Linked DNA regions of Homo sapiens. The protein of the gene in region 5 purifies or fractionates together with the protein of the main gene of each other region. This does not show direct contact. Each region holds a gene or a part of one and is shown on either strand. Other genes may lie near its edges. The genes, in order: ATF2, MYORG, SCFD1, CIAO2A, SACM1L, ARCN1 and TMEM98.

Evidence for each region.
Region 1: the proteins of SACM1L (region 5) and ATF2 purify together in Homo sapiens (co-immunoprecipitation; one large-scale study listed by IntAct). This does not show direct contact.
Region 2: the proteins of SACM1L (region 5) and MYORG purify together in Homo sapiens (co-immunoprecipitation; one large-scale study listed by IntAct). This does not show direct contact.
Region 3: the proteins of SACM1L (region 5) and SCFD1 purify together in Homo sapiens (affinity purification with mass spectrometry; one large-scale study listed by BioGRID and IntAct). This does not show direct contact.
Region 4: the proteins of SACM1L (region 5) and CIAO2A purify together in Homo sapiens (co-immunoprecipitation; one large-scale study listed by IntAct). This does not show direct contact.
Region 6: the proteins of SACM1L (region 5) and ARCN1 purify together in Homo sapiens (co-immunoprecipitation; one study listed by IntAct). This does not show direct contact.
Region 7: the proteins of SACM1L (region 5) and TMEM98 purify together in Homo sapiens (co-immunoprecipitation; one large-scale study listed by IntAct). This does not show direct contact.

What each region holds. Positions count from the first base shown.
Region 1 is NC_000002.12:175,112,411-175,116,825, forward strand, and holds part of ATF2 (cyclic AMP-dependent transcription factor ATF-2), read right to left. Parts: intron 2,459-4,415; coding exon 2,280-2,458; coding exon of another isoform or gene 2,276-2,279; exon of another isoform or gene 1,833-2,275; intron 1,699-1,832; coding exon 1,584-1,698; intron 1-1,583. UniProt on the Homo sapiens protein: Transcriptional activator which regulates the transcription of various genes, including those involved in anti-apoptosis, cell growth, and DNA damage response.
Region 2 is NC_000009.12:34,366,899-34,370,398, forward strand, and holds part of MYORG (myogenesis-regulating glycosidase), read right to left. Parts: 3' UTR 1-3,500.
Region 3 is NC_000014.9:30,635,376-30,639,790, reverse strand, and holds part of SCFD1 (sec1 family domain-containing protein 1), read right to left. Parts: intron 1,667-4,415; coding exon 1,544-1,666; intron 15-1,543; coding exon 1-14. UniProt on the Homo sapiens protein: Plays a role in SNARE-pin assembly and Golgi-to-ER retrograde transport via its interaction with COG4. Involved in vesicular transport between the endoplasmic reticulum and the Golgi.
Region 4 is NC_000015.10:64,076,798-64,081,212, forward strand, and holds part of CIAO2A (cytosolic iron-sulfur assembly component 2A), read right to left. Parts: intron 4,355-4,415; coding exon 4,305-4,354; intron 1-4,304. UniProt on the Homo sapiens protein: Component of the cytosolic iron-sulfur protein assembly (CIA) complex, a multiprotein complex that mediates the incorporation of iron-sulfur cluster into extramitochondrial Fe/S proteins.
Region 5 is NC_000003.12:45,733,799-45,738,213, reverse strand, and holds part of SACM1L (phosphatidylinositol-3-phosphatase SAC1), read right to left. Parts: intron 2,980-4,415; coding exon 2,841-2,979; intron 632-2,840; coding exon 562-631; intron 443-561; coding exon 370-442; intron 1-369.
Region 6 is NC_000011.10:118,581,846-118,586,260, reverse strand, and holds part of ARCN1 (coatomer subunit delta), read right to left. Parts: intron 3,083-4,415; coding exon 2,903-3,082; intron 2,453-2,902; coding exon 2,247-2,452; intron 1,782-2,246; coding exon 1,617-1,781; intron 1-1,616. UniProt on the Homo sapiens protein: Component of the coatomer, a cytosolic protein complex that binds to dilysine motifs and reversibly associates with Golgi non-clathrin-coated vesicles, which further mediate biosynthetic protein transport from the ER, via the Golgi up to the trans Golgi network.
Region 7 is NC_000017.11:32,940,942-32,945,188, reverse strand, and holds the end of TMEM98 (transmembrane protein 98), read right to left. Parts: coding exon 4,196-4,247; 3' UTR 874-4,195; downstream 1-873. UniProt on the Homo sapiens protein: Functions as a negative regulator of MYRF in oligodendrocyte differentiation and myelination. Interacts with the C-terminal of MYRF inhibiting MYRF self-cleavage and N-fragment nuclear translocation.

The DNA.
Region 1 (4,415 bases), on a different chromosome or scaffold from region 5:
ATCTTGAAATTACGTCAATCAATGCTAATTTTGGATAGTTTGAAAGATCACGTGGAAGAATTAGTTAATTAAAAAAAGATATAAATATCAAACATTAATCCTAGTAATATTCTTGGGGGTAATCTCACCGAAAGTGTTGGAATGTTACTATAAGTAAGCTTTTAAAAATAAGTTTTATTTTTTATTATTTTTGAGACAAGGTCTTACTTTGTTGCCCAGCCTGGAATGCAGTGGTGCAATCTCGGCTAACTACAGTCTCAACCTCCAGGCTCAAGTGATCCTCCCACCTCAGCCTTCTGAGTAGCTGAGACTACAGGTGCTTCCATCACAACTGGCTAATTTGTGTTTATTTTTTGTAGAGATGGGGTTTTGCCATGTTGCCCAGCCTGGTCTTGAACTCCTGGACTTAGGCAAGCCACCCACCCTGGTCTCCCAAAGTGCTGGGATTACAGGCATGAGCCACTGCACTTGGCCTAAAAATAATTTTTAAAAGCTACACTGTAAATGATTACACTGTACTGATCAGTAACAAGCATCTTAGAAGGTAAAAGAAAAAACTATCTTTTTATTACATAAATAAGTACCTAATGCTTGGTGTAAGATTTCCAGGGAGAGAATAATAGAGAGATTCATAAAGTAATATCGTAAATGATTTAGATGAAAAAGAAAATACTGTGTTCTGGAAACTGTGCTAGATGTCTCAAAAAGTGGTTCTCAGGATGAAAATTTGAATGTCAAAGACATAACTGAAGAGTTTGTTTGAATAAAACTGTTTTATGTAATGTAAGTAAGAAAAAAGCAATTTTCTAACACACATTATTCCAAACAATGTGTTTTTAAATGTTCATTAAACTATTACTTTTTTTTTTTTTTTGACTTGGGGTCTTGCCCTGTCATCCAGGCAGGATCCATAGCTCACTGCAGTCTCAAACGCCTGGGCTCACACAATCCTCCTACCTCAGCCGCCCAATACGCTGGGATTACAACAGGCATGAGTTGCCATGCCTGGCCAAACTATTAAATATCATAAGTAGATAGTTAACTATTTTGTCTACGTCTTTCAAAATTTATATATTTAACACACCCCTCAAAAAACTTTTTTGCGGGGTCTTTTCACAGGGAAAGTGAAAGATTATTTTTCTAGAACATTTACATTTTAACATGCTGGGCTATCAAAGATTCTACAAACCCTACTTGACCACAAAAATTCAGAGTGTGTCTTTATAAACAATTTCCATACTAATAGAAATACCACAGAGTTACCTGACAAGTATTCTAGTACAAATATCTTTCTAAAATTTGAAATCTGTGTTAATATTTGAATGCTACAAGTCCAGTCAAATTGATATGGGTTGAATAAGAAGATCTCAGTATAAAAAAAAAATTAAGGTTTTGGGGAGAAGAGAAAAAATAGCTATACCTTGAATGGTATATGCTATTACAATGATAACAAATAAATACTATCAACTGCTAATCAATATTATGTTAAATTCAATTTCATAAGCCAGTCAAGCAGCCAACTTTATTTTCTGACTACAAAGATCAGTTTTGCGATAGAGATTTAAATAGTCTAACTTTCTTACTGGGACTGCAGCTGGAACATGCACATTAGAACTTGTAATTGATGCAGGAATAGCAACAGGCATGGTTTGTCCATTAGGAAGATGTAACAGAAGAGGAAATGGGCCTGGTACAGGGCTAAGAAAAACAAAAGAAGAGAAATTTTAAAAAAGAGATTCATACCAACTGTCTCTTAAAAATACAATAGTATTTTTACTCCTATAATCATATCATTTAAAAATACATTTTCTAACCACAGCAAAGCAAATAGCAAAATTTAATTATTTTTAATTGCATCTTAAATGCATAACCTGTGTAGCAGTATTGAAAAGAAGAGAAAAGTTATGGATTTACTTAGGACAATCTCCAATTTGTAAAATGAGAAAAACTGTCATCAGAGAGCTCTTGGGAGCTACCAGTAAGAACTGAAAGAAATGGAATCTGGTGATGCAGTAATTTTATATTTTGTGTGAAATAGCATGAAAATAAGACTATCTTAAATTCACATTCTATATTTGTTTTTAGTTGTATTTATCTCCCACTCTGTTAGTTAATATTTATATTAAAGAAGACTACGCAAGTACTTTTTCCAAAATTCGAAGCATGCACACACATACAAAACTAAGATCTTAGTTTGAATAATCAAATGTCTTAGGAAAAATCATTACAAAACAAACTTAATTCATGTATATGTTCAATGATTGGCCTGAATCACTTACACAATTGGCCTGTTAGAGGATGGTGCCTGGGTGATTACAGTACTTGAGGTTGGTGAAGGTACTGCCTGCTGAATAATTACACTTGAGTCAGAACTTGTAAGCAGCACATTGGGAACCTGTAATGATGCTGGACGAACAATAGCTGATGTGGGCTGTGCAGTTTGTGCCAATGGTACTTCCTATTTAACAATGAGATAAAAAAGGGTGGCATTTAAAAATACAAATCATGTACCTTAGTGAACAGAATGTAACACACTTCTAAAAGCATCTACAGAATAATAACTGCTAAAAGCAAATTAATATCTCAAATTAATTAAAAGAACATTTTAGAAGAGCTGTAAAGATTCAAATGCAATGTTCAATTAATATTTTAATTTTAAAAAGACTCGTTTTTTTTTTTTCCAGTACAACTTGTTCTCCTATCAATCCAGAAATAAGTTAGACTGGGCAACTTGGCTATGATACCAAGAGAATTTTAATAAAAAATAAAAATATAATCCATTCTCAGAGAATCACAGAACTTAAAATCCAGAAGGGACTGTTTAGTCCCCCTCCCTCATTATACTGTATGAAGAGGAAACAGGTCCAGTGAGACTGTGTTATGGCTGATACAATTAAGTAACAGAAATAAGAACTTTTAGAGCAATACAAATAATTGTTAATTCCAGTTAGCTACCTCTTCTATATCAATAATTTCTTCATATCAAAAGGCCACGTAATACTGATATCTTGAATGTAAAATAAATAATTACCGGAGTGAACTCTTTCAAGTCAGGAAAACAGAATTTGTCAGCCAAGACCTTAAAGATGGTATTTCCTCTGGTTTTACAAATTATAGAACAAAAAGTTTTAAAAGATTTTACCCAGAACTCCTTAAATAGTCAGTGTAAAAATTGGGTCTATGGTGTTTTATGAATTGGCCTGTATGCTGCCACTTATCATCAAAATCTTATTAAGCTACATAGGAAGAAGGATAAAGTAGTAGTATTGTAACTTCATTTATTCAGTAAGTTGAGAACTTATGCTCCCAAGGACTAGCTCTCAAGGAAGAGACAATAAACAAGTAAAACAAGTAAGAAAATTTCAGATTGTAGTAAATGTTAAGTGTTACAGAATAATACGTGCAATGTAACAAAGGATGAAAGATTAGCTGAAGGTAAGGAAGAGTCAGTTAATTTAGACAGCATAGTAAGAATAGGTGAGCTTCTTTGCAAAAACAGCATTCGAACTGATGATAAAAGGATGAGGAGGAGAGCATTTCATTGTAGGGAGAAGGAAGCAATACCATATATGTCATGTCCTGAGGTAGGAAAAAGCTTTGAATATTTGATGAACACAATAGAGAGGCATGAGGTAAGGATAGATGCGTAGACAGGCCCAGATCAAAGAGGGCTTATGCCAAGGAGTGTGAATTATTTTAAATACAATGGTAGACCATTGAAAGATTTTAAGCAGGTGACATATTTAATGTATTAAAAGTCATCTTACAGAAAATGGATTGGAGGTAGAAGCAGGAAGACAAGTTAGAAGGTAACTGTTAATAATCCAAACAAAAGATGATGATGGTTTGGGCTTACGTGGTGTCACTGAACACAGACATAGAGGATGAGATTCAGGTCTGATAAAATATGCTGTTAGTTTCAGTGTAAAAGAAAGAAGAAATTAAGGATGACCCCTAAATTCTCAGCTAGAACAACTAAATGGATGGAGAAAATTTACTGAGATGGGGAAAACTGGGGGAAGAATCAAGGACTCTGATTTTGACCTATTAAGTTTAAGATGTCTATTAGACATAGAAAAGGTAATGTCAAGATGGAGTTGGATATAAATCTGGCAATCTGGTGAGATACCTATGCCCATAGAAATTTGGGAGTCATCAGTATGTAGATGTTTATTAAAGTTATGGGCCTGGATGAGATCACCTAGGAAGAAAATCAAGAAAGAAGAAGAGGTCCAGATTTTTTTTTTTTTAAATCAATTTCATATGGTATACCTTGCTCAAGGAGGGCCTAATGATTGGGGAATGCAGAAAGAAGGAATACTCCTAAAAGATGCTGAAGCAGCCACGAACAATGAAAAACTGTTAAGTGTGAAAAGAATGAAATGCTCTCTAGGAAAAAAGATTTGTATCAGAGA
Region 2 (3,500 bases), on a different chromosome or scaffold from region 5:
TCATCAGGCATTTTCCACACTGAGAAAATAAAGAAGGTAGAGGAGTGGTGTATTAGTCTGTTTTCACACTGCTGATAAAGACATACCCGAGACTGGGTAATTTATGAAGAAAAAGAGGTTTAATGAACTCACAGTTCCATGTGGCTGGGAGGCCTCACAATCATGGTGGAAGGCAAAAGGCACATCTTACATGGCAGCAGACAAGAGAGAATGAGAGCCAAGCAAAAGGGGAAACCCCTTATTAAACCATCAGATCTCGTGAGACTTATTCACTACCACCAGAACAGTATGGGAGAAACTGCCCCTATGATTCAATTATCTCCCACCAGGTCCCTCCCACAATTATGGGAGCTACAATTTAAGGTGATATTTGGATGGGGACACAGCCAAACCATATCATTCTCTCCCTGGCCCCTCCCAAATCTCATGTCCTCTCATTTAAAAATCAATCATGCCTTCCCAACAGTCCCCCAAAGTCTTAACTCATTTCAGCATTAACTCAAAAGTCCATACTCCAAAGTCTCATCTGAAACAAGGCAAGTCCCTTCCACCTATGAGCCTGTAAAATCAAAGGCTAGTTAGTTACTTCCTAGATACAACGGAGGTACAGGCATTGGCTAAATACACCCATTTCAAGTGGGAGAAGTTGGCCAAAACGAAGTGGCTAAAGGCCCCATGCAAGTCTGAAATCCAGCAGGGCAGTTAAATCTTAAAGCTCCAAAATGGTCTCCTTTGACTCCATGTCTCACATCCAGGTCACACTGATGCAGGAGGTGGGTTCCCATGGTCTTGGGCAGCTCCACCCCTATGGCATTGCAGGGTACAGCCTACTTCTCGGTTGCTTTTACAGGCTGGCGTTGAGTGTCTGTGGCTTTTCCAGGTGCATGGTGCAAGCTGTCAGTGGATATACCATTCTGATGTCTGGAGGACGGTGGCCTTCTTCTGACAGCTCTACTAGGCAGTGTCCCAGTGGGGTCTCTGTGTGGGGGCTTCCCCTTCCACATTGCCTTAACAGAGGTTCTCCATGAGGGCCTCACTCCTGTAGCAAACTTCTGCCTGGACATACATGCATTTCCATACATTCTCTGAAATCTAGGCAGAGGTTCCCAAACCTCAGTTCTTGACTTCTGTGCACCTGCAGGCTCAACACTACGTGGAAGATGCCAAGACTTGGGGCTTGCACCCTCTGAAGCCAAGGCCTGAGCTGTATCTTGGCCCCTTTTAGCCATGACTAGAGCAGCTGGGATGCATGGTACCAAGTCCCTGGGCTGCACACAGCAAGGGGACCTTGGGCCTGGCCCACAAAACCATTTTTTCCCTCCTAGGCCTCCAGGCCTGTGATGGGAGGCACTGCTGCAAAGGTCTCTGACATGCCCTGCAGACATTTTCCCCATGTCTTAGTGATTAACATTTGGCTCCTTGTTACTTATGCAAATTTCTGCAGGGGGCTTGAATTTATCCTCAGAAAATGGGTTTTTCTTTTCTATCTCATCATCAGGCTGCAAATTTTCCAAACTTTTATAGTCTGTTTCCCTTTTAAAACTGAATGCTTTTAACAGCACCCAAGTCACCTCATGAATGCTTTGCTGCTTAGAAATTTCTTCTGCCAGATACCCTAAATCATCTCCCTCGAGTTCAAAGTTCCACAAATCTCTAGGGCAGGGGCAAAATGCAGCCAGTCTCTTTGCTAAAATATAGCAAGAGTCACCTTTACTCCAGTACCAAACAAGTTCCTCATCGCTATCTGAGACCAACTCAGCCTGGATTTCATGTCCCAATCATTATCAGCATTTTGGTCAAAGCCATTTAACAAGTCTCTAGGAAGTCCCAAACTTTCCCACATTTTCCTGTCTTCTGATCCCTCCAAACTGTTCCAACCTCTGCCTGTTACCCAGTTCCAAAGTTGCTTCCACATTTTTGGGTATTTACAGCAGCGCCCCACTCTACTGGTACCAATTTACTGTATAGGTTCATTTTCACAGTGCTGATAAAGACATAACCAAGACTGGGTAATTTATAAAGAAAAAGAGGTTTAATGAACTCACAGCTCCACGTGGCTGGGGAGGCCTCACAAGCATGACAGAAAGGCACGTCTTACATGGCGGCAGGCAAGAGAGAATGAGAACTAAGCAAAAGGGGAAACCTCTTATAAAATCATCAGCTCTCATGAGATCTATTCACTATCACCAGAACAGTATGGCGGAAACTGCCCCCATATTTCAATTATCTCCCACTGGGTCCTTCCCACAACACATGGCAATTATGGGAGCTACAATTCAAGATGAGTTTTAGGTGGGGACACAGCCAAACCATATCAGGTGGGGAAACGGATGCATTCTCTAGGGGGTAGGGGACTGGTTTTGCTACCAGAGCTGTTGATGGAAGCTAAAGTTCACCCTGTTTCCCACCGACCCGCTCTGGCATGCCACTTTTCTCCAGACTCAGCTGCAAAGTCAGAAAAAACTCACTCCGGCTGAGGTTGCTCTTCTTAGAAAGAGAAAATGGCTGGCGTGGTGGCTCATGCCTGTAATCCCAACACTTTGGGAGGCCAAGGTGGGTGCATCACTAGGTCAGGAGTTTGAGACTAGCCTGGCCAACATGGTAAACCCCATCTCTACTAAAAAATACAAAAAGCCAGGCATAGTGATGCATGCCTGTAATCTCAGCTACTCAATCGCTTGAACCTAGGAGGAGGGGTTGCAGTGAGCTGATTGTGCCACTGCACTCCAACCTGGGTGACAGAGCAAGACTCCATCTAAGGGGGGGCGGGGGGAAGAGAAAATGGCTGAGATGAAAGACCTTCCCCTGTCTGTTTATTGGTAGTTGTCAGTGTGTGCATGTAGCCTGTGTTCAGAAGCACAGACCACCAGAGTAAGAACATCACTCCCTTCTAGGCCACACCCCAGGCACATGTGCAGGGGGTGAGGCAGCTGAGGAATCTTGAAAGGGCTATTTATTTCCTACGAGAGTCCTGGGGAAACCGCCTGGGAGGAGGCTGGCTCAGCAATCAGAGCCTCAAATTTGCTCCATGCCCCCTTCCTCCAGATCATCCAGCCTCAGAGAGGTTGTGTTCATTTCATAGATCAGGGACCCATGATGCGTGTTTCTCTCTCTCTCTCTCTCTCACACACACACACGCACACTCTTCAGTTAAGGCACGAAGTCTGGCCTGCATGGCCCTGCAAGTCTGTTCCCATCAGGCACATTTGGCCCAGGGCTGAGCCCATGTATGTACACAAATGGGTTAGTGCAGTGTTAGGAGTCTCTTCACAAATTGGGAACATGATGATGGCTCTGTGCTAAGCCCAGTCCTCCTGTTCCCTGGGAGGGGATCTCTTGCCTCCTTGTCAGCCAAACACCTCCCCAGCTGGACTGGGACCAAATCAGCCACAGTTCAGGTGAGTGCTGGGGACTCAGGGCCTGGCTTCTAACACTAAGAAAACACACGTTCTAAGTGTGGTGGGGGCTATTTGGAGACCTTAAATAAGATCAAGTCCCCA
Region 3 (4,415 bases), on a different chromosome or scaffold from region 5:
TATTGGTCAAAAACCTAGAAACAAAAGAAAAGGTTTACAAATCAATCTTACAATATAGCCATATTGAAAGTAAATTTAGTTTGCTCTAACCTACCAATGGTAGAAATGAAAAAAAATCCTAATTACATTCAATAACTAAAAATTGTACTGTGTAACAGCCTAATTGAACAAGAATGAGGAGTAAAGAGTAAGTTAAGGCAATAAAAACAAGTCTTTGGGCAATAAATATGAAGGAGGAGAATAACATTTTCAGAAAACAAAATTTAAGCAGATACAAGAACTTAAATTGTGGTTGTGATGGGAATGGATATCAATTTTGAAGAAAACATACAATTTTAACAATCATTTTCATCACATTTTCCTAAAAAAGTCACAGTAATTGTTTTACACCAAGAACTTTTCTAATAAAGTGGGAAAAAGTTATGCCAGTTCTTTGGAAGTGCAGAGTAGGAGAAAAATTAAGAGAACTATTTGAAATACACTGAATTTAGTTAACCAAATTAAGGCTGAGTGAGGTGGCTTGCACCTGTAATCCCAGAGCTTTGGGAGGCTGAGGTGGGAGGACTGTTTGAGGCCAGAAGTTTGAGACCTGGGCAACATATTAAAAAAATTAGCTGGGTGGGGTGGTACGAGCCCAGGAGCTGAAGATTGCAGCAAGCAGTGATTGCACCACTGCATTCCAGCCTGGGCGAGCGAGACACTGTCTCAAAACAAAACAAGAAGGAAAACAAAAGTTGTTCCCATTATTTTATGTGAAGTTAATAAATTTTGAGCACAAAGATTAAAGGCATAAGCCTCAAAAACTAATCAGAAATATTAGTGGTCTATTTAACTCTAACAATGAAAAATCTATCAGTAGAAAAAGAATAGAAAGTATATGCATGGTTGTTTAGTCTTTTATTTGTCCTAGATAGTTGTCTGGAACTTTAATGCATATCTTGTCCAAATTCAAGAAACACAGAGCATTACAGGATTATAACCTGAAATATATTTTACAAATTGATTTATAACTGAAGCTGAACCTGACTAAAAAGTCACTATGATGTAGAATTGCAGGCCTGTCATGGGTTCTTTTTCTCTTAATATGCAACAGAGGCACTTTGGATCTCAATATGCAACACGGGCACTTTGGATCCTCTTTCCTAAGTAAAAAAAATATCTGGAAATAGTATGATGATTATAATGATTACAGATAAAACAATGTCAACATACTTTCAATACAGTTTATGACAATACAACTGTCAAATGATTTCTGAGTTGACCTAAAAATATTATACAAATCACAGACTAAAGCAAAACTCATTCTGCTTTTTATTTCTGTCTTTCAAATTCATTAAATAATAGGTTCCTTTAGTTTGGCTTATTTTGCCTAGTTCAACTTGAATATAATTTATATTATCAGAACTCTTTATAAAAGTATTGAGCCTAAACAATTCTGTTGTTCTGGTCATCTGTCAAATAGATATCTATGCCAACTACGGGTTTCAGAACAGTGTTAAATTTTACATTGACAAAATGTCATCAACCCACCAAACTCTCTTACCTTGGCTACTTGTGTTACTGCACTAGCTGCTAACGCTGCATTTGCAATATCTTCCAGTTTACTTCTTGAAATAGCAGAAATAAAATTTAAATAATATGATTCATATAGTTGATTTCGAAGATCCTATCAATACAATGAAAACTTTATTCTTATAGGATAAAGAAGACCATGAATACATATGTTTCAACTACTATAAGGCAAAGTTATATTTAAAAGACAGGATATTTAAATGACAATCAAAAAAAGTATCCCAAGAGAAAAAACCTTTGAAGTAGTACTGGTTATCTGGTTATCAGATGTAACTAAAATGTTTCTTAATAAAGTAATAAAATTATATTATCAACAAAATCTCATTAATTACAATACAGTACAAACTGCTTTCATACAGCCTATCTGCATTCTTCTTAAAATATCCAGATATGGTCCACTAATATAGTAAAATGCTTGTTATATTTGGCAGACACGATCTTCAACTGTTCTGGACATGTGATGACACAACAAATCCTTCATTGCACACAGACAAGTTATAAATCCAATTACCAATTCTAGAGGTATTTCTTTTCAACTGCTCAAAAGTAGTGCAATTTAAGTTATGCAAATTCTTAAGTCAAATTTACTTATCTTCTTATACTTTTAGCAAATAGATATCGAAATAACCATACTTCCTTAAATCTAAGATGTCATTGACTGTAACAAGAACCATCATTTTATGTAACACTAAGAATTAATGATGCCAATAAAATTTTGTGGCATGATCAATTTTAAGATGCACCTGATTTTAGCGATGTTAAAATGTGAAACATTGAGGGGTTGGAGCCTTTGTGAGGAAGGTGATCAGGGTAGTGGTTCAATCAAGGTCAAGAAATTATTTATGTATGAGGATTGAGAAATAAGTAATATGTTCACGATACTGGGAACCATGTTTTTCACTCTGAGAAAGGAGTTACAAATTTGTAAAGAGAAAAGGGAAACGCTAGAGTGAATCCTGTGTTGCTGAGCTGAAACAGTTTTGGAGGTTATCTGTTTATCTGGATAGGTGAGGGGAAGAGAGGGAGAATTGTAGAAATAAATACAGATATAAAAGTGTATGTATAAATACATAATTTCCTAACTTTTTCCATTGAGAGGACCTAAGAACAGTGACACTCTAGTCACAATGAATATACCTAATGCCTAGATCCTGATTCCTAAATACCATTCTTTACAGAAAGCAACCAGAGCTCCTCAGAAAAATGTCTGAATCCTGGGCTGAGACAGAGAAAGTAAAATCCTAGGCTATATTGGAACATCTTATTGTGCCAGAAAGTAAGGAAGTGGTCAAAGAATGATGCATACATTTCAAAAGGACATATAAGTTCAGCAAGGTTGCAGGATACAAGATAAATACATAAAAATCAATTGAATTTTTATACAATTGCAATGAAGAATCCTAAAAATGGAATTAAGAATTCCATTCATAATAAGCATTAAACACATGAAAGAATAAATTTAACAAAAGAAGCACAAAACTTATGACAAGCTAATCGTAATTTGGAAATTCAAGAAAAGCCAAAACAGTCTGAAAAAAAGTACAAAGTTGGAGGACACAATTTCTCAATTTCAAAACTTGCTATCAAGCAAGAGATATCAACACTGTGTGGTACAGGCATAAGGAAAGACATAGATATCAATGCAATAGAACTGAGAGTTCAGAAATCAAACAAGATATCTGTGGTCAGCTGATTTTTGACAAGGCTGCCAAGACCATTCACTAGGGAAAGAATAGTCTCTTTAATAAATTACGCTGGGACAACTGGATAGCCACATGCAAAAGAATAAAGTTGGACACCTACATCCCACCATATATAAAAATAATGCAAAGGGGAATCAAGACCTACAGGTAAGAGCCAAAACTATAAAATTCTTAGAAGAAAACACAAGAATCTGGAATGGTTTCCTAAATATGACACCAAAAGCATAAGCAACTCAAGAAAAAAAAAAACCGATAAACTGGGCTTCATCAAAATCAAAAATGTTTGTGCTTCAAAGGACATTATCCAGAGAATGAAAAGATAACCCATAGACTGGGAGAAAATATTTACAAATCATAAACTTGTGAGTGTCTAGTATCCAAAACAGAAAAAGAATTCTATCAACTCAACAATAAAAAGACAACCCAATTAAAAACTGGGTGAATGATCTGAATAGATATTTCTAGAAAGACATACAAATGGCCAATAAGCATGTTAAAAGATGCTTAATATCATTAATTACAGAAATGCAAATCAAAACTATAATGAGATGCCACTTCAAACCTATTAGGATGGCTACAATAAAAATATCGGATAGTAAGTGTTCAGCAAGGATCTGGAGAAATCAGAACCCTCACACACTACTGGTGGGAATATAAAATGGTGCAACCACACTTCGCAAAACAGTCTATTACTAAAAAGGTAAACATAGAGTTATCATTTGACCATGCAATTTTATTCCTATGTGTTTACGGCCACAAGAGAATTGAAAACATGTCCACAGAGAAACCTGCACATGAATATTTATGGCAACATTATTAATAGCCAAAAGGTAGAAACAATCCAAATGTCCATCAAGTGGTAAAAGGATGAATAAAATTTCGTACATCCATACAATGGAATATATTCAGCCACGAAAAGGAATAAGGTACCAATTCATGCTACAATATGGATGAACCTTGGAAACATTATGCTAAGAGAAATCAGCCATATACAAAAGACCACATATTATAGGATTTCATTCATATGTAATGGTCAGAGTAGGCAAATATACAGAAACAGAAGGTAGCTTAGGGATGGAAGAGGATGGGGGAGGGTTGAGGATGTGATAAATGGTACCAGGTTTCTTTTTGAGGTAATGA
Region 4 (4,415 bases), on a different chromosome or scaffold from region 5:
CACTACAGCCTCGACTTCCTGGGCTCAGGTGATCCTCCCACCTCAGCTCCCACACTCCCACCCCTCTCCTCCCTCGTCTCTATTTTTTTGTAGAGACCGCGTATCGCCATATTGCCCAAGCTGGTCTTGAATTCCTGAGGTTAAGTGATCCGCCCATCTAGGCCTCCCAAAGTACAGAGATTATAGGCGTGAGCCACTGCACCTGGCCCCAATTTTTTTTAAAAAACAAAACAAGCCGGGCGTGGTGGCTCATGCCTGTAATCCCAGCAATTTGGGAGGCCGAGGCAGGCGGATCACGAGGTCAGGAGATCGAGACCATCCTGGCTAACACAGTAAAACCCCAACTCTACTAAAAATACAAAAAATTAGCCGGGCGTGTATTACCAGCTACTCAGGAGGCTGAGGCAGGAGAATCCCTTGAACCCGGGAGGTGGAGGTTACAGTGAGCTGAGACTGCGCCACTGCACTCCAGCCTGGGTGACAGAGCGAGACTCCGTCTCAACAAAACAAAACAAAACAAAACAAAACACCTTTCTCCTAGTAGCAAAACACTCTTATTCTAGACCTCAAAGCAACAGGTATAGAATCACTCTATACTGACTTACTTCAGTTTAAAATTACACAGGACTCATTATTCTAAAAGTGATAAAGGGGAAAAGGCAGCATTTATGCAGCTATTCCTATATGAACTATACTTCAGGGTAACCAATTGATGAGGGGAGCTGTTACCAATAATGGGACAAACTGAATTTATAGGCCTCTGATGTGATGCAATGAGAACACATTTATTCAGTATTCTTGCCAAAAATGCACAAACTGAATCTAACCAGGAAACATCAGAAAACTCAATTTGAGGGACAATCTATAAAATATCTGGTTTACATTCTTCAAAAATATCAAGATCATGAAATAAAGGCTAAGGAACTACTCTAAATTAAATGAGACTAAAGAGACATGGCAACTAATGCAATGTATGATGGGGGAGAGGAGCAGAGCCAGGAGGAGGGACCGCCATGAAGGATGTTACCCATTGGAATACGTGCTGTAGATGAGATGACAGTACTGTATCAATGTCCTGGTTTAGAAATTTATACTGTGGTAATGTAAGAGAATGTCCTTGTTTTCAGGAAATACATCCTATAGTATTTAGAGTAAGGGGGCATTACAAATGCACTCAAACATTTCCAGAAAATATGTGTATGTGTGTGTACATATATAGAGAGAAATTAATGATAAACCAAATGTGGCAAAATGTTAACAATTAGTGAATCTGAATCTGGGTGAAGGATATATGGAATTTCTTTGTACTATTCTTCACTATTTTATTTCTTTTCTTTCATTATTTTCATTTCAAATAAAAAGTTAAACATTGTAATTAAAACAGTTAAAAATGAAAAATAAAATTTACAGGGCATCATAAACCACTAGTATAATAATTTATTAATTTACTCAATTTAAGACGTATTTATTGAGCTCCAAATATGTATAAGATCATAGCAGGAACACAGAGATGTATCATATATGAATCTTGACTTCAAGAAGCTGACAGCTAGCTGGTCAGGCATGGTGGCTCATGCCTGTGATCCCAGCACTTTGGGAGGCTAAGGCGGGTGTATCACCTGAAGTCAGGAGTTCAAGACCAAACTGGCCAACATGGCAAAACCCTGTCTCTACTAAAAATACAAAAATTTAGCTGGGTGTGGTGGTATGCGCCTGTAATCCCAGCTATTTGGGAGGCTGAGGCAGGATAATCGCTTGAACCCAGGAGTCAGAGGCTGCACTGGGCCGAGATCGCACCACTGCCCTCCAGCCTGGGCGACAGAGCGAGATTCCATCGCAAACAAAAAAAAAAAAAAAAGAAAAGAGAGAGAAGTTGACAGTCCAGGAGGGAAGATGAAAAACAAACAGAACACAAGTTAGAAAAGGACACTCTCTACATCAGAAGACAAAGAAAGAGCCACGGGGCTGGGTGCAGTGGCTCACGCCTGTAATCCGAAACACTTTGGGAAACCAAGGCGGGAGGACTGCTTGAGCCCAGGAGTTCACGAACAGCTTGGGCAACATAGTGAGACTCTGTCACTACAAAAAATAAAATTAGCTGGGCATGGTGGCATATACCTGTGGTTCCAGCTACTTGGGAGGGTAAGGAGGGAGGCTCACTTGAGCCTGGGAGATCAAAGGTTCAGTGAGCTGTAATCATACCACTATATTCCAGCTTGGGCAACAGGGTGAGACCCTGTCTTTAAAAAAAACAAAAAGAAAGAGCCACGGCAATTCAAAAAAAGAAATAGCTTTAGTTACAGAAATCAGGACTAGTAGTATGGAAAGGTGAATACAAAAAATAAAAAAAAAAATTTAAAAGATAAATAAAAATTCATCTTAAAAAGAAGAAAGAAATCAGGACTGATATCATGGAAAATAAAATAGTATTTCACTGGGCCTTAAAACGTGGGTAGGATTTGGCCAGGCCCAGTGGTTCATGCCTATAATCCCAACACTTTGAGAGGCCAAGGCAAGATGATCACTTGAGCCCAGGAGTTTGAGACTAGCTTGGGCAACAAAGAGAGACCTCATCTCTACCAAAAATTAAGAAAAAATTAGCCAGGCATGGCAGTGCACGCCTGTAGTCCTAGCTACTTGGGAGGCTGAGCCTCGGAGATAGAGGCTGCAGTAAGCAGTGATCACACCACTGCACTCCAGCCTGGGAGACAGAGCAAGACCCTGTCTCAACAGCAAACAAAAAAGATGTGTAGGATTTGAACATATGAGATGGGAGGAAGGGAACTCCAAGTAGACAGGGTACTCTGTGTAAAGGCTAGGTAGCAGCCAGGTAGAGAAGGCATAATTGCCCAGCAATTACAAGAGGCAGTAAGAGACAAGGCCGAATCATTCACGAGCGATAACCAATTACTATGAATTAACTGTGATATCCATATTCTTGCTCAATAGTAGGGTTAAAAACATCTTCCTCAGATTATCACACCAAAAGCACAAGTTAAAAAATTAAAAACAAATTAGACTTTATGAAAATTTAAAACTTTTGTACTGTAAAGGACACCATCAAGAAAGTGAAAAGACAACACACAGAATGGGAGAACATATTTGCCAATCATATCTGACAAGGGACTTGTATTTAGACTATATAAAGAACTCTTATAATTCAATAATAAAAAGACATCCTTATTTTAAAATGGGCAAAGGATCTGAATAGACAGCTCTCCAAAGATACACAAATGGCCAAAAACCACATGAAAAGGTTCTCAACATTATTAGCCATCAGAGAAATAAAAATCACAACCACCATGACAGCAGGGTGCAGTGGCTCATGCCTATAATCCCAGCACTTTGGGAGGCCGAGGCAGTGGATCACTTGAGGCCAAGAGTTCAAGACCAGCCTGGCCAACATGGTGAAACCCTGTCTCTACTAAAAATAAAAAAAAATTAGCCGGGAATGGTGGTACATGCCTATAATCCAAACTGCCTGGGAGGCTGAAGCACGAGAATCGCTTGAACCCTGGAGGCGGAGGTTGCAGTGAGCCGAGATTGCACCACTGCACTCCAGCCTGGCGACAGGGCAAGACTTTGTCTCAAAAACAAAAACAAGGCCAGGCACAGTGGCTCATGCCTGTAATCCCAGCACTTTGAGAGGCCGAGGCGGGTGGATCATGAGGTCAGGAGTTCAAGACCAGCCTGACCAATATGGTGAAACCCCGTCTCTACTAAAAATACAAAAAATTAGCTGGGCGTGGTGGTGGGCACCTGTAGTCCCAGCTACTCGGGAGGCTGAGGCAGGAGAATCGCTTGAACCTGAGAGGCAGAGGTTGCAGTAAGCTGAGATGGCGCCACTGAACTCCAGCCTGGGTGACAGTGAGACTCTGATTCAAAAAACAAAAACAAAAAACCATCACTTCACACCCACTAGAATGCCTGTAATCAAAGATAATAATAAATGTTAGCAAGGATGTGGAGAAGTGGGAACGCAGAATGGTGCAGCCACTGTGGAAAACAAACAATTCCTCAAAATGTTAAACACAGAGTTACCATAGGACCGGGCGATTCCACTCACAGGTGGAAAAGAAATGAAAATATATGCCTACACAAAAACTTATACATGAATGTTCATAGCAGCATTACTCATAATAGACAAAAAGTAGAAACAACCTAAATGTCCATCAACTGAGTAACAGACAAGCAAAAACCACTGAATTGGTACACTTTAAATACGTGAATTGTGTGGTATGTGAATTATATCTCAACAAAGCTGTTTTACAACAACAACAACAACAAAAATACATCTTTCTTACCTTATGTTTAAATGGTAAACATCGCTGAAGTTTTACTCTTAAGCACAGCCCTGTGGAGGGAAAATCACACCTCCAATTATCTCTTTATTGCTTCTTATTGGTTCTTGAAAA
Region 5 (4,415 bases):
TTCAAAATGTTCTCATTAATGTCCTCATTACTCAGTGCAGTCTTTGAAAGCAGCATCAGCATCACCTGGGTGCTTTTTAGAGCACATCTCAAGACTGGTGCTTCAGGTACACGGTAAGGTCTGAGGAGCACTGTGGAGCGGTGGCTCTCAACCCTCCCCAAGCATCAGAATCTCCCAGGGTGGCTAAGAACACACCAGTACCCGGGCCTCACTTCCCAGAAATCCTGACTCCACAGGTCTCAAGTGAGGCCCAGATGCTGGAGTCTTGCTGTTGTTGCTGCTGCTGTCTGAAAGCTGCCCAGGTGATTTTTAAAAGCACCAGGACTGTGAACTACTGATGTGGAATGCTATTTTAAAAGCATGGCTTGCCTGGTAAAGTCAGTCTTCAAGGCACCAGTTCCCGCATATTGCTTGGCACAAGCATTTGCGTTGTCAGCCCAGGCTGTAGAAAAAAGTAAAAACAGCTGATAATTATTAAGATGACAAACAAAGTTCTAAATCCAGAATATTAATTTATTTCAAAATCTGACCAACTTTGTCTATATTAAAGAAATGACCTACCATTTTTGTAAATCTTCTCAAATTCATCTTGTTCTTCAAGCTTTTGTCCCACATGCAAAACTCCTAGTCTCTGGAATAAAAAACCACACCCAGATTTATGTGTAATAGATTTTAGCAGACATGGTTTAGGAAGAAAAAGCAGTCCCCAAATTTTATCTCATGGTGCCTGGTTGCTGGATGCAGGCCAGAAATGTCTGTTGTCTATAGGGGGCCCCAGCTCACAGCAGCCCTCTCCTGCCCAGGGCAGACTGCAAAGCCTCTCCTGAGGGCACCTTTGCCTTGCAGCCCCCGCACTCCCTTGAGGGATAGCAGCAGGACTATACTCAGGGAGAGGGTCAGAAGAGAGAGTGAAAGCTGCTATAGGATTCCAGCCGCTACTTCCTCCCTCCCTCTTACCCCCAGTCTTCTACTGCCTCTACCCCTTGAGACCCCCTCACATGCATCATCCCTCAACTTCTTCACCCCTGAGTCACCCCAGCCTTACCCTCTGTCCCAGGGACCTTTAAGAATCTGATGAGTGCCACCTAATCTACCTCCCCAAAAGTGCACACACACAGACATAGAATATCCCAGGGTTGCTGGGCCCCCTGAATCCCCTCTATAGACTCCCCTTTGGAGACCACCAACCACAGATGACAAGTCCCTGCCTTGTCTCAGACCATCACTTCTGAGAACCACCATCTTCATTGCTTACCTCAGATGACACCTCATCTCCACCTCAGAAGGAGTCATTCCCACCCTCAGACACAGCACAGGAGCCACCTTGGTGACCTTTAGCTGGGTAAGAACTCTGCCTTCACTGGCAGACTTGGAGAGGCACAAGTAGACAGCCCCTACACTAGTAGGCAAAGCTGCTGGAGAGGCTCCTGCCCCCACTCTCTGCAGGTTGGTTAGGTTTCATAATACTATATATAGCATGTAAAATTGTAAAATATGGATTGCAGAGCCTAGTCAAGTAAGTTTTGGTTAATCAGCCATGGAACCAAACCATTCCTAATATTGTTTCTATTAAAAACTACACTTAGAAGACCTTCCAACAGACGAGGACATAGCACAATACAAACTACAGACTACTCCAACAGGGACAGCACTCCTCTGGCAGGTGTGACTTTAAGATTCAAGAACAATTCATTCTGAAGGGGGTATTTTACCTCCATAATTTCTTTCTCGGTATCATACAATTGTCAGAAATAAAGCTGAATGCTTACTAATTACCTGAACAGGAAACCATGTGGTATGCATTTTGTCTGCCCCTCACAACAAATGCCAATGTGATTTAAAAATTGGGGCTCTACATCTTTTTCATTCCAAATATACACAGAAGAAAAAAACCATTTTTCTCAACAGCATAGTCTAGTGGTAAAGCAAAGCTGTGTCAGAAACTTTTTACTTTGGAGTCAATATTCCTTGCTAGTAATAAGAGAGAGATAAATAGAAACAATCTTGAGGTGCTACTTTTGTATTAACGAAATAGAAAAAAAAGAGGCTAGACACAGTGGCTCAAGCCTGTAATCCCAGCACTTTGGGAGCTGAGGCAGGTAGACTGCTTGAGCCCAGGGGTTTGAGACCAACCTGGGCAACATGGTGAAATCCTGTCTCTACAAAAAAAAATACAAAAATTAGCCAGGTGTGGTGGCACATGCCTGTAGCCCCAGCTTTGTGGGAGGCTGAGTTAGTAGGATGGCTTGAGCCCAGGAGGCAGAGGTTGCAGCAAGCCGAGACTGCACCACTGCACTCCAGCCTGGGCAACAGAGCCAGACACTTTCTCAAGGAAAAACAAAAAAAAAATTAAAATATCAAATGCTGGGAAGAGTTCAATGAAATGGATTTACTGATTCATTATTGGTGTCAGTGTAAACTGGTATGACGCTCTTGGAAAATAATATATTTATTCTCTTTAACCCAGTAATTCCACTTCTAGGAATTAACATGAAGGAAATAATTCAAGTTAATAATAACATATACAGATATATTCTCTACGGTGTTATTTATAAACCAAAAATGTAGCAATCTGAATGGCTTAGTAAATTACGGCACAACAATACAACCACCAGAAACTGTGATTACATAAATGCTAAGGGAAAATGGCAAAAGTGAAAACTGTGCATACACAGACTGACCCTAGTTATGGAAAATGTGACATCCATGGGCAAGACACAAAAATAAAAAGAGCTGGGTTAGGGTGTGGGCAATGTGAATATTTTTTGTTACTGGGTTTTAAAGATGTTTAATTTTTTGCTGTGTTGTTTTTCAATTAAAAAAAAAAAAAGCATTCGCACCTGAAGTTGGGCCTGAAGTGAACGACGAGCTAACAAACTCTGGATCACATTGGTTCTATCTAGACAATCCATGCAATTGCTTCGGAACACGCCTTCCTGGTTTGCCACCACCTGGCCAGCAGAGTCCACTAGAAAATAACTAAAACATATTTGTATAAACACTCTCATACCAAAGTAGGTCAGATTTACTAAGGACTTAACTCTTATAACATGGGTCTCATTTCAGTGACATTATTAAAAACTGTAAATTAAAAGGTCAGACAGGAATGTGTGGTCAGGCATATGTGATTATCCTAGACCAAAAAGAAGTCTAAATGGCTGAGGCAAGACAGCCCTCCATCCAAAAAATGGCTGAAGATTAGAGATCATCTCACCCCAAAGATGTGAAAAAGTAAAGTTAAGAGTATTAAAAAGGTTGCTGTGCAAATCAATCATGTTTCCCAAAGCCAGATGAGGGTTTCCTCTAACATAATTATTCCAACTATATCCCTAGATGTCAGGGCTTTATGATTCATATACTATCTTTAGAATCCTCTGGGTTGCTTGTGAAAAAAGATTCCTGGCCTTGAGATCAACTGAATCAGAATCTCTGAGGCAAGGATTGAATATTTTGCATTAAAAATACTTTTAGCTGGGCGTGGTGGTGCGTGCCTGTAATCCCAGCTACTTGGGAGGCTGAGGTGGAAGGATTACTTGAGCTCAGAAGTTCGAGACCAGCCTGGACAACATAACGAGTCCCTGCCTCTAAAAGAACAAAAACGTAGCCAGGCATGGTGGTGCCTACCTGTAGTCAGAAGGCTAAAGTGGGAGGATCACTTGAGCTCAAGGGTTAAAGGTTGCAGTGAACTATGATCACACCACTGCACTCCAGCCTGGGTGACAGAGCGATATCCTGTATCTAAATTAAAAAAAATTTTTTTTAAATACTTAAAAATATTTTTTTTCTTTTTCTTTTTTTTTTGAGATGGAATCTCCCTCCGTCACCCAGACTGAAGCACAGTGGCATGATCTCAGCTCACTCCAACCTCTGCCTCCCAGGTTCAAGTGATTCTCCTGCCTCGGCCTCCTGAGTAGCTGTGATTACAGGCACCCACCACCATGCCTGGCTAATTTTTGTATTTTTAGTACAGATAGGGTTTTGACATGTTGGCCAAGCTGGTCTTGAACTCCTGACCTCAGGTGATCCGTCTGCCTTGGCTTCCCAAAGTGCTGGGATTACAGGCGTGAGCCACAGCCCCCAGCCAAAAAAAAAAAAAAAAATTCTTAAATGGGTAATACATGCAAATAGTACAAGATTTATAAAGAACAATTGGGTATTATTTGAAAAATCAGTTTCCCTTCCTCCCCTTAAACATCCAGATGTCTGCACTGCAACCAACCACAGTTACCAGTTCCCATGTTTTCTTTAACAAGCTCCTTGATAATTCTATGAATTCAAAAATCTGACAACACACAGTGTGGTGGTTAAGAATATGGATGCAGGAAGCAAACTATCTGTTTGCTAGCCTTAGCATCATACGCAACTTACTAACTCTAGAACTTTAAATAGTAAGCTTTTTCATCCACAAAATGGAG
Region 6 (4,415 bases), on a different chromosome or scaffold from region 5:
AGCCGGGTGTGATGGCGTGCACCTGTAATCCCAGCCACTTGGGAGGCTGAGGCAGGAGAATTGCTTGACCCCGGGAGGTGGAGGTTGCAAGATCGTGCCATTGCACTCCAGTCTGGGAGACAGAGCAAGACTCTGTCAAGAAAGAAAGAAAGGAAGAAAGAAAGGAAAGAAGAAAGAAAAAGAGTAAATACTCCTCTTTTATGCACACCTGATAAAGGTATCCTCCTGGTATTATCTTTCACTTGACCTCAAAACCATCAGCAACAGTAGAAGGTCTGGCTTCAAGACGAGAAATCTGAGTCACGAATATGTGAACTTGATAACTACCACTTAAAAATGTCACCAACCAGTACCACAGCCCTGAGATAAGAGATGAATCAAAATATTCCATACTGGCTTCAAATATTTAAACTGCAAAAGATGGCTGGGCATGGTGGCTGACGCCTGTAATCCCAGTACTTTGTGAGGCCGAGGCAGGCAGATTGCTTGAGTCCAGGAGTTCGAGACCAGCCTGGGCAACAAGGCAAAACCCCATCTCTACCAAAATACAGAAATTAGCCCAGCGTGGTGGTGCATGCCTGTAGTCCCAGCTACTTGGGAGGCTGAGGTGGGAGAATCACTTGAACCTGGGAGGCAGAGGTTGCAACAAGCTGAGATTGCACCACTGTACTCCAGCCTGGGTGACAGAGTGAAACCCCATCTCAAAAAAATAAATAAATAAAATAAAAATGCAAAATATATTAATTTGCTATTAAAGATATCTACAAGTTTTGGATTAAAGATTGGTTCTACTTAGACTTTAATTAGAAAAAGTCATGCCAAAATACAGTGTGGGGTCACCATAGCTCTAGTCCCCTAATTCAAGTGCATTCTAAGAGATACGCTATATACCAGGTGTGACTACAAGTAACTTTAATTTAGCTGTAAAAGGAAAGTTCTAAACTTCATAGAAAATAGGTGGCTGAGGGCCCCCAATCATGGTTTAAGGAAAAAGGAAAAGGTCAGGTGCAGCAACGCATGCCTGTATCCCAGTTACTTGGGAGGCTGAGGCAGGAAGATTAACTGAGCTCAGGAGTTGGAGGCCAGCCTAGACAACATAGTAAGACCCTGTCTCAAAAAAATAAAACAAAACAACAGCCGGGCGTGGTGGCTCACGCCTGTAATCCCAGCACTTCGGGAGGCTGAGTCAGGCGGATCACAAGGTCAGGAGATCGAGACCATTCTGGCTAACACGGCGAAACCCCATCTCTACTAAAAATACAAAAAAATTAGCCGGGCGTAGGGGTGGGCGCCTGTGGTCCCAGCTACTCGGGAGGCTGAGGCAGGAGAATGGCGTGAACCTGGGAGGGAGAGCTTGCAGCGAGCCGAGATCACACCACTGCACTCCAGCCTGGGTGACAGAGTGAGACTCCATCTCAAAAAAAAATAAGTAAATAAAACAAAACAAAACCAAAAACGATCTTATGTTAATATGTAGAATCTGCTCTGAATAAATCTTTTAAATCAGGAACGATTAAAAGACAGAGAAAGAATTTATAGCACACTGAAATAAGATTTTTAAAAAATTATGTGGACTGTATTCAAAGCTTGAATTCTTACTCAAAGTTCCTACTTACCTTTCCATATTAATGGGTGGAGCATGCATTTTGGTTGCTTCAGAAGTACGCTTGCCCATACTAGAGGACATGATGGTTTCACCTTCAGATTTTAATTTGTCCACAAAGTTATCTACTTCCTTTCCTTTGGCTCCAAGTTTTAAAGCCTTGCTGGGGCCTGAAGGCCTAAGTGGAAGAATTTGAAATTCATTACCCAAAGGTTTATTTTTACAAGCACACATGATCTGATGAAAATTTTGTATCTCCCGTCCAGAGAAATACACCTGTGCACAAAATTTTGTATATAATTTTGGGTAATTCACAGATTTCCCCTAAAATCAATCAATGAACATCAAGATTAAAAATCTACATTCCATAAAGCATTAAATAGCCCTTTCCTCCCCACAATAAGGCAACTCTCATAGGAAACTGAGGTCATGACATAATTTATAACTCTCTTTTATACAAAAGGAAAAACACCACATTCAGATTTCTTCTTTATCCTCATATTGTATGTGGCCAAATGTAACATCATATCTTACTTCATCAAGTCCTTCTTTATTTACAGCTTTCCAAGAAATCAGATTATGACTTCAAAGATAGACACATATACACCCTTCACCTGGTATTCTAAAGTACACTGGATTATACCTGGCTGGTGCAGGTGCCACTTTTGGTTTATCAGTTTCAATGATGGTCTCTGTGATCATGGCAGCTGTGCTGCCTCCAGATACTGCAGAGCTGCCAAATCCGCCAAATCCTGGTGCTTTTTTGCCCTGTCTCTCTGCATCTCTTCGGGCCTGTTGTAATTCCTTTGCTTTACGACGCATCTCAGCCTTAGCTTCACGTTCTTGAGTCTACAGAAAAAGACATACATTAATGTAGCTTTTTTTTTTGGGTTTTTGTTGAGACAGGGTCTCACTCTGTGACCCAGGCTGGAGTGCAAGTGGCACAATCACAGCTCACTGCAGCCTCAACTTCCTGGGCTCAAGTGATCCTCCCATCTCAGCCTCCCAAGTAGCTGGGACCCACATGCACGTGCTACCATGCCTGGCTAATTTTTTTTTTACTTTTTATAGAGACAGGGTCTCACTACGCTGTCCAGTCTGGTCTTGAACTCCTGGACTCAAGTGATACTCCCACTTCCGCCTCCCAAAGTGCTGAGATTACAGACATGAGCCACTGTGCCTAGCCTGGACATAGTTTTGAATACAGTCTACATTAGTAAGTAAAAATAGGAAAATGAGATTAGTGAAGCCTAAGAGAAAGACATACAAACAGGTAGTCCCAGAGAAGATCCTATTTACCTCTCTGACGGCTCTGAACACCTTCTCCTCATGAGAATCCATTTCTGTGAAGGTTCTGATCTGTGCCAAGTTAACATTCTCCCGGTATCCCAGTGCGACAATTTCATCAAAAGCAAAAATCAAATCAAAACAGTGCTCAGATATTTCATTCTCTTCTAAGGCTCGGCAATATTCAGGGATCTAAGCGTGGACACCAATAAAAAAGAAAGATTTAGAATTTATCAGCAGCTATATTTCCAAGTCTTATCCTTTAGAGTACATAAATTTCAATAACCTAAATCCCTTTATTAGCTACTTCTAGTCTTTATTTTATTTTTTGGGACAGAGTCTCGCTCTGCTGCCCACGCTGGAGTGCAGTGGTGCCATCTCGGCTCACTGCAACCTCCATCTCCTGGGTTTAAGTGATTCTCCTGCCTCAGCTTCCGGAGTAGCTGGGACTACAGGTGTGTACCACCACGCCCAGCTAATTTTTGTATTTTTAGTAGAGACGGGGTTTCACCATGTTGGCCAGGCTGGTGTTGAACTCCTGACCTCAGGTGATCCGCTTGCCTCAGTCTCCCAAACTGCTGGGATTACAGGCGTGAGCCACTGCGCCCAGCCTAACTCCCTGATTTTTTTTTTTTTTTTTTTTTTAAGACAAAGTCTAACTCTGTCACCCGGTCTGGAGTGCAGTGGCACGATCTCGGCTCACTGCAACCCCCACCTCCTGGGTTCACGCAATTCTCATGCCTCAGCCTCCTGAGTAGTAGGATTATGGGTGCCCGCCACCATGCCCAGCTAATTTTTTTGTATTTTGAGTAGAGACGAGGTTTCACCACGTTGGTCAGGCTGGTCTCAAACTTCTGACCTCAGGTGATCCACCCGCCTCAGCCTCCCAAAGTGCTGGGATTACAAGCGTGAGCCACCACGCCCAAGACCCTGATTCTTACAGCCGGGTGCAGCGGCTCATGCCTGTAATCCCAGCACTTCGGGACGCCAAGATAGGCAGATCACCTGAGGTCAGGAGTTCGAGACCAGCCTGGCCAACATGGTGAAACCCCGTACAAAAATTAGCCAGGCATGGCGATGCACATCTGTAATCTCAACTACTCGGGAGGCTGAGGCCAGAAAATTGCTTGAACCTGGGAGGTGGAGGTTGCAGTGAGCCGAGATTGCACCATTGCACCACTGCACTCCAGCCAGGGCAAGAGCGAGACTCCGTCTTTAAAAAAAAAAGAATCAGGGTCTTGCTGTGTTGCCCACACTAAAGTATAATGCCTGTGCACTTGAACTCCTGGCCTCAAGCAATCCTTCTGCCTCAGCCTCCTGAGTAGCTTGGACTACAGGCACATGCTACCGCACCTGGCCTTAGCCTTCATTTTAAGCAAGACTTTGGCATAAAGTCTTAAAAGGTGTGTGTGTGTGTGTGTGTGTGTGTGTGTCTGTCTGTCTGTCTGTCTCTGGATCAGTAAGTCTTACCTAAGTCTTCATTTTAAGCAAGACTTTGGCATAAAGTCTTAGAAGAGGGGTGTGT
Region 7 (4,247 bases), on a different chromosome or scaffold from region 5:
CCATGCCCCAGCCCTCATTTTAGTACCTATGTTCTATCATCCTGTGGGTTGTAACCAATTAGTGGGCCGTGAAATTAATTCATGGGTCACAACTACCATTTTTTTCACAAAAAAAGATTTGAACTGGAAGAGAATGGAATGACTCTCATGTCTGTTCTTTCCTTTCCATGATGGATTTCCCACCTGCTGCACCCAGGCAGGAAGATGTGCCAGTTAAAAACACAAGTTGAGGAGTTGAAGATCCTGCTCTGATTCATATTAATTGTGAGACTCCAGGAGGGTTACTGATCTTTCTGCTTTGGTCTCCTTACCTGCAAAATTGGGATAATAAAAATACAAATAGGATGAAACAGGAAGAACCAGTTTTGCCTCAAATTCTGAAAATTGCTCATCAGCCTTTCTCATAGAAACACAGTAAGACCCACCAGAACAAACACAGCACAACCATATTATTTCCCCCGGCACTTTCTGTGTGTGTGTACATGTGTGTGTTTTGAGACAGGGTCTTGCTCTGTTGCCCAAGCTAGAGTGCAGTGGCTCTATCAAGATTCACTGCAGCCTCCACCCAACCCAGGCTCAAGCGATCCTCCTGCCCCTGCCACCTGAGTAGCTGGGACCATTTTCTGTTCTGATGCCTGACTCCTTCTTTGTCAAGTCTCCATTCAGGCAGCAGCTCTGCCCTATTTCAACCCCACCCCTGCCCTGTCCCTTCTCTGTGTGCCCACAGTCCCTCTTGTGGTCCCCTCCATCACAGCACTGGCTACAGTCATGGCTCCAGCAGTTGCTCATTTCTCTATCGCTCCTTAAGGGCAGGGATTGTGCCTTTTGTTTCATAGCTCCAGCATCTAGCACGAACCCTCTTCCACAGAAAGCTCTTGGTATGCATTTATTGGAGACAGGGAGGAGGTGAGGAGGATAGAAATTCTTCATCTGACACTTTCCCCACATTTCCAAGGCCATAAAGCAATGCAGGGCCTTTGAACTGTAGGCCATTTTCTAAAAGTCTGCTCGTGTGGGCACACAGGGTCTCTGGAGAGGGAACTCCTGGAATGAGGCAGGTCAGGGGGAGCACCAGGGGAAGTTGGATGCCAGGAATACGTGTTCCCTCTTGGAGATCTCACAAGCTGGGGGAATTTCTCTGGAGGAATGTGAGTTGCACAATCGACCCTTTGAACACTGATTAGAGGCGACGGCTTTGTATGTCTTCATATGAACAGACTTGTAGTGGGGCAGGGACAAGGCTACTCTCCCTACTGTAGGGATTCCAGATTTTTGGCCACTCAATTCCAGAGCCCATGAACAGAAGTCACTGCTTGGACCAAGCCATGGTAACTGAGGTGACGCCATCTGGGTCAGCGGCATCAGAGAATGGGAAGCTGTGGAGAGAAGGGTGTTAACATTGGCTAATCAGAACCAGGCCCACAATTGGGCAGCTCACACATACCGTTTTGCTTGTTGACATACCAACCCAATGACAATAGCCTTGACCATACAGATGAGAATGCTAAGGACCAGAATGTTAAGAACTTGACCAAGCTCACACTGTAAGTCACTGAGCCCAAATTCAAACCTAATTCTGACTTCAAATATCTTGTTCTCTTCACATTGAATCTCTATCTCCAAGTAATTTCTTTTTCATCAGAATTTGAGTCTAATGCTCCTATTCCAGGCCAGAGGGAAGAGAGACATGGAAGGAAGGCTCTACTACCATGTATACAGACGCTAGAGAACTAGGCACTTAGGAATGTGTCTGTTGCCTGGGAAACCACACCTGGCACAGAGACAGTCCTGAGATCCCTGGCACTCACTAACCAGCCCCTTCCAAGGGAGGAAGTAACTTCAGCCAACTCCCGAAGGGCCTAGAGGAGTGGCATTGCCTCCTACCCCAAAGACTGCTTCCACTTCAACCATCAGCCACCAACACCAAATTTATCCAGAGGCTTCTTACTTGTCCAGCACTAGAAAAAAAAACTACACAGCAGTGGGATCAGAAATCCTACAGTCCAGCAGACACCTCCAATATCTTCGGCAACCTCTCCTCACAACAGAAAGGGCAGCATCTAAGGGATCCAGAAAGCCAATGTGCCAGGACTTGCCAGGACTCAGAGAAGGTAATCGACATTGGGCATTGCTTCAGGGGTGCTGGGAAAGCTCTCCACCCTGCAGACCCACACCAGGTGGATGGTATTTGAGATACCAATTCAGAACTGCTTCTCTGTGGCTTAGGGCTCTAGTGCAGGTTAAAATGCAGGGGACACTTACAACTGTGGCAGCCATTGCAAACTTAGCATGAATTGCTTTCCAGTCTAATTACGAAAACAGGTTCTGAAAGGGAGGTAAAAAGACAAAAATAGGATGACTCTGGATGTTTACTGTGGAGGCCTCAAATAGAAAAGTCAAAGTGACTTTGTATACATTCCCCATTCACAGCTTGACAGGACGGGAAAGTTCACCACTTAACGTTTTTAAGAGTTGATGGAAGCCACCAATCCAATAAGGTGTCCCCTGGAGCCCATCCAGAATCCATCCTTTAGTCCATGAGAGTTGAGCTCCAGCTTCCCTCTCCTGACTCCATATCCCAGCTGTGGTTCTGTGGTTTGGTGTACATTGTGCAGGTTGGAAGTGGCCTGTTTTCCTGGAAAGAATGAAATGTGCCCAAATGGAAAGACAAACCAGGTCCCAATCTTGGATTTGGGAATATGGGTTCCTGGTTCCCCAGAATCCAGCTGAGGAATTTTCTGACTTCAGTTAGACAGAGAAAATGACATGGGAACAGATGTGCAACTCCAAACATGCTTGACAGCATAGGCTACGAACCTGGGCAGCCCCTATACCAGGCCCCTCTCCCAAGAGCAAGCTGGCTCTGAGAATCTGAGAAGTGAAGAATTCAAGCTTTTCCTACAGGCTTATGACAGAAATTATGCCATTTGGGTATGTATCCAAATTATATAATTGTGATTCTGGGTCATAGCTTTCATAATCTTTCAATGTTTGCAAAATGAACAGATATTAATATCAGAAGAAAGGGGGAACACATCGTTCAAGTCATTGCTATTGTTAATGTGGAAACTACTTCATAGTGCTATCTTCACTTCTGCCTGAACTCCAAGAGGTCTTTAAATATATTTTATATATATGTATGTTTTGGAGACATGGTCTCACTCTGTCGCCCAGGCTGGAATGCAGTGGCACAATCAGGGCTCACTGCAACCTTCACCTCCTGGGCTCAAGCGATCCTCCCACCTCAGCCTACCAAGCAGCCGCACGTGTCACCATGCCCAGCTAATTTTTGTAGTTTGTGTAGAGATGAGGTTTCACCATGTTGCCCAGGCTGGTCTCAAACTCCTGGGCTCAAGCAATCCACCCACCTTAGCCTCCCAAAGTGCGAGGATTACAGGTGTGAGCCACCGCGCCCAGCCTAAATATCTCATTTTGAGGCATACACAGAAATCATCCTCAGGATTCTTAGGCTCTCTCCTTCCATCTAAGTATGTCCCACAATACACCATGCATATGAATTTGACTCAATAACTACACACTTGAGGGAAACATAAGTATAAATTTACTATCCACCTAGTGGTAGCTAGGTAAAATTGCAGGCATAAAGATAAAAAAGAAATCATCAACTTTGTAGTTCCTCAGCTTCAAACCCAAACCTGCAAGGGAGAGGAGAGACCCAGACGCCTCAGGGACCAGGCAGATAATACAAATAAATGAAACAGGCCAGGTGAGAGAGTACAAGTCTTGCCAAAAGAAGAAACCCCTACTTAGTTTCAATTGATTGTCCTCTTCTGAAAATGCAGATCAGAATTGCCACACATTCTGACCGATCGAGAGAGGCCAGAAATTCTAATTTTAATGTGAAACCTCTTGATTTCTTAGACGGTGGCTCAATTTTCTTGAAAACACTAGGTGAGCTAAATAAAGCTGACAGTCCACCAGTTTTCAATACTCCTCTTGCAGAGAGTGAATGGCATCTCCCCTAACTGTAGTATTAGACTGCCACTCACCAGCCACAGTTTGCAACTGCAAAAGAGGCATAAACTGACGGGGATCTCCTGCTTTACTATGCACACACAGCTGAACTCTCCAGCCGTGGAGAACAACTAACTCTATAGGAAAAAGTAGAAGGCTAAGCTGAGCCATCCAGGGATGGCGGCAGGGGCCTTCATGGCTAGCTGCTGGCCTGTAGGCACTAAATTGCAGACTGCTCCTGCAGGAAGCCTTCAGGGCCTGGGAGGCCTTTA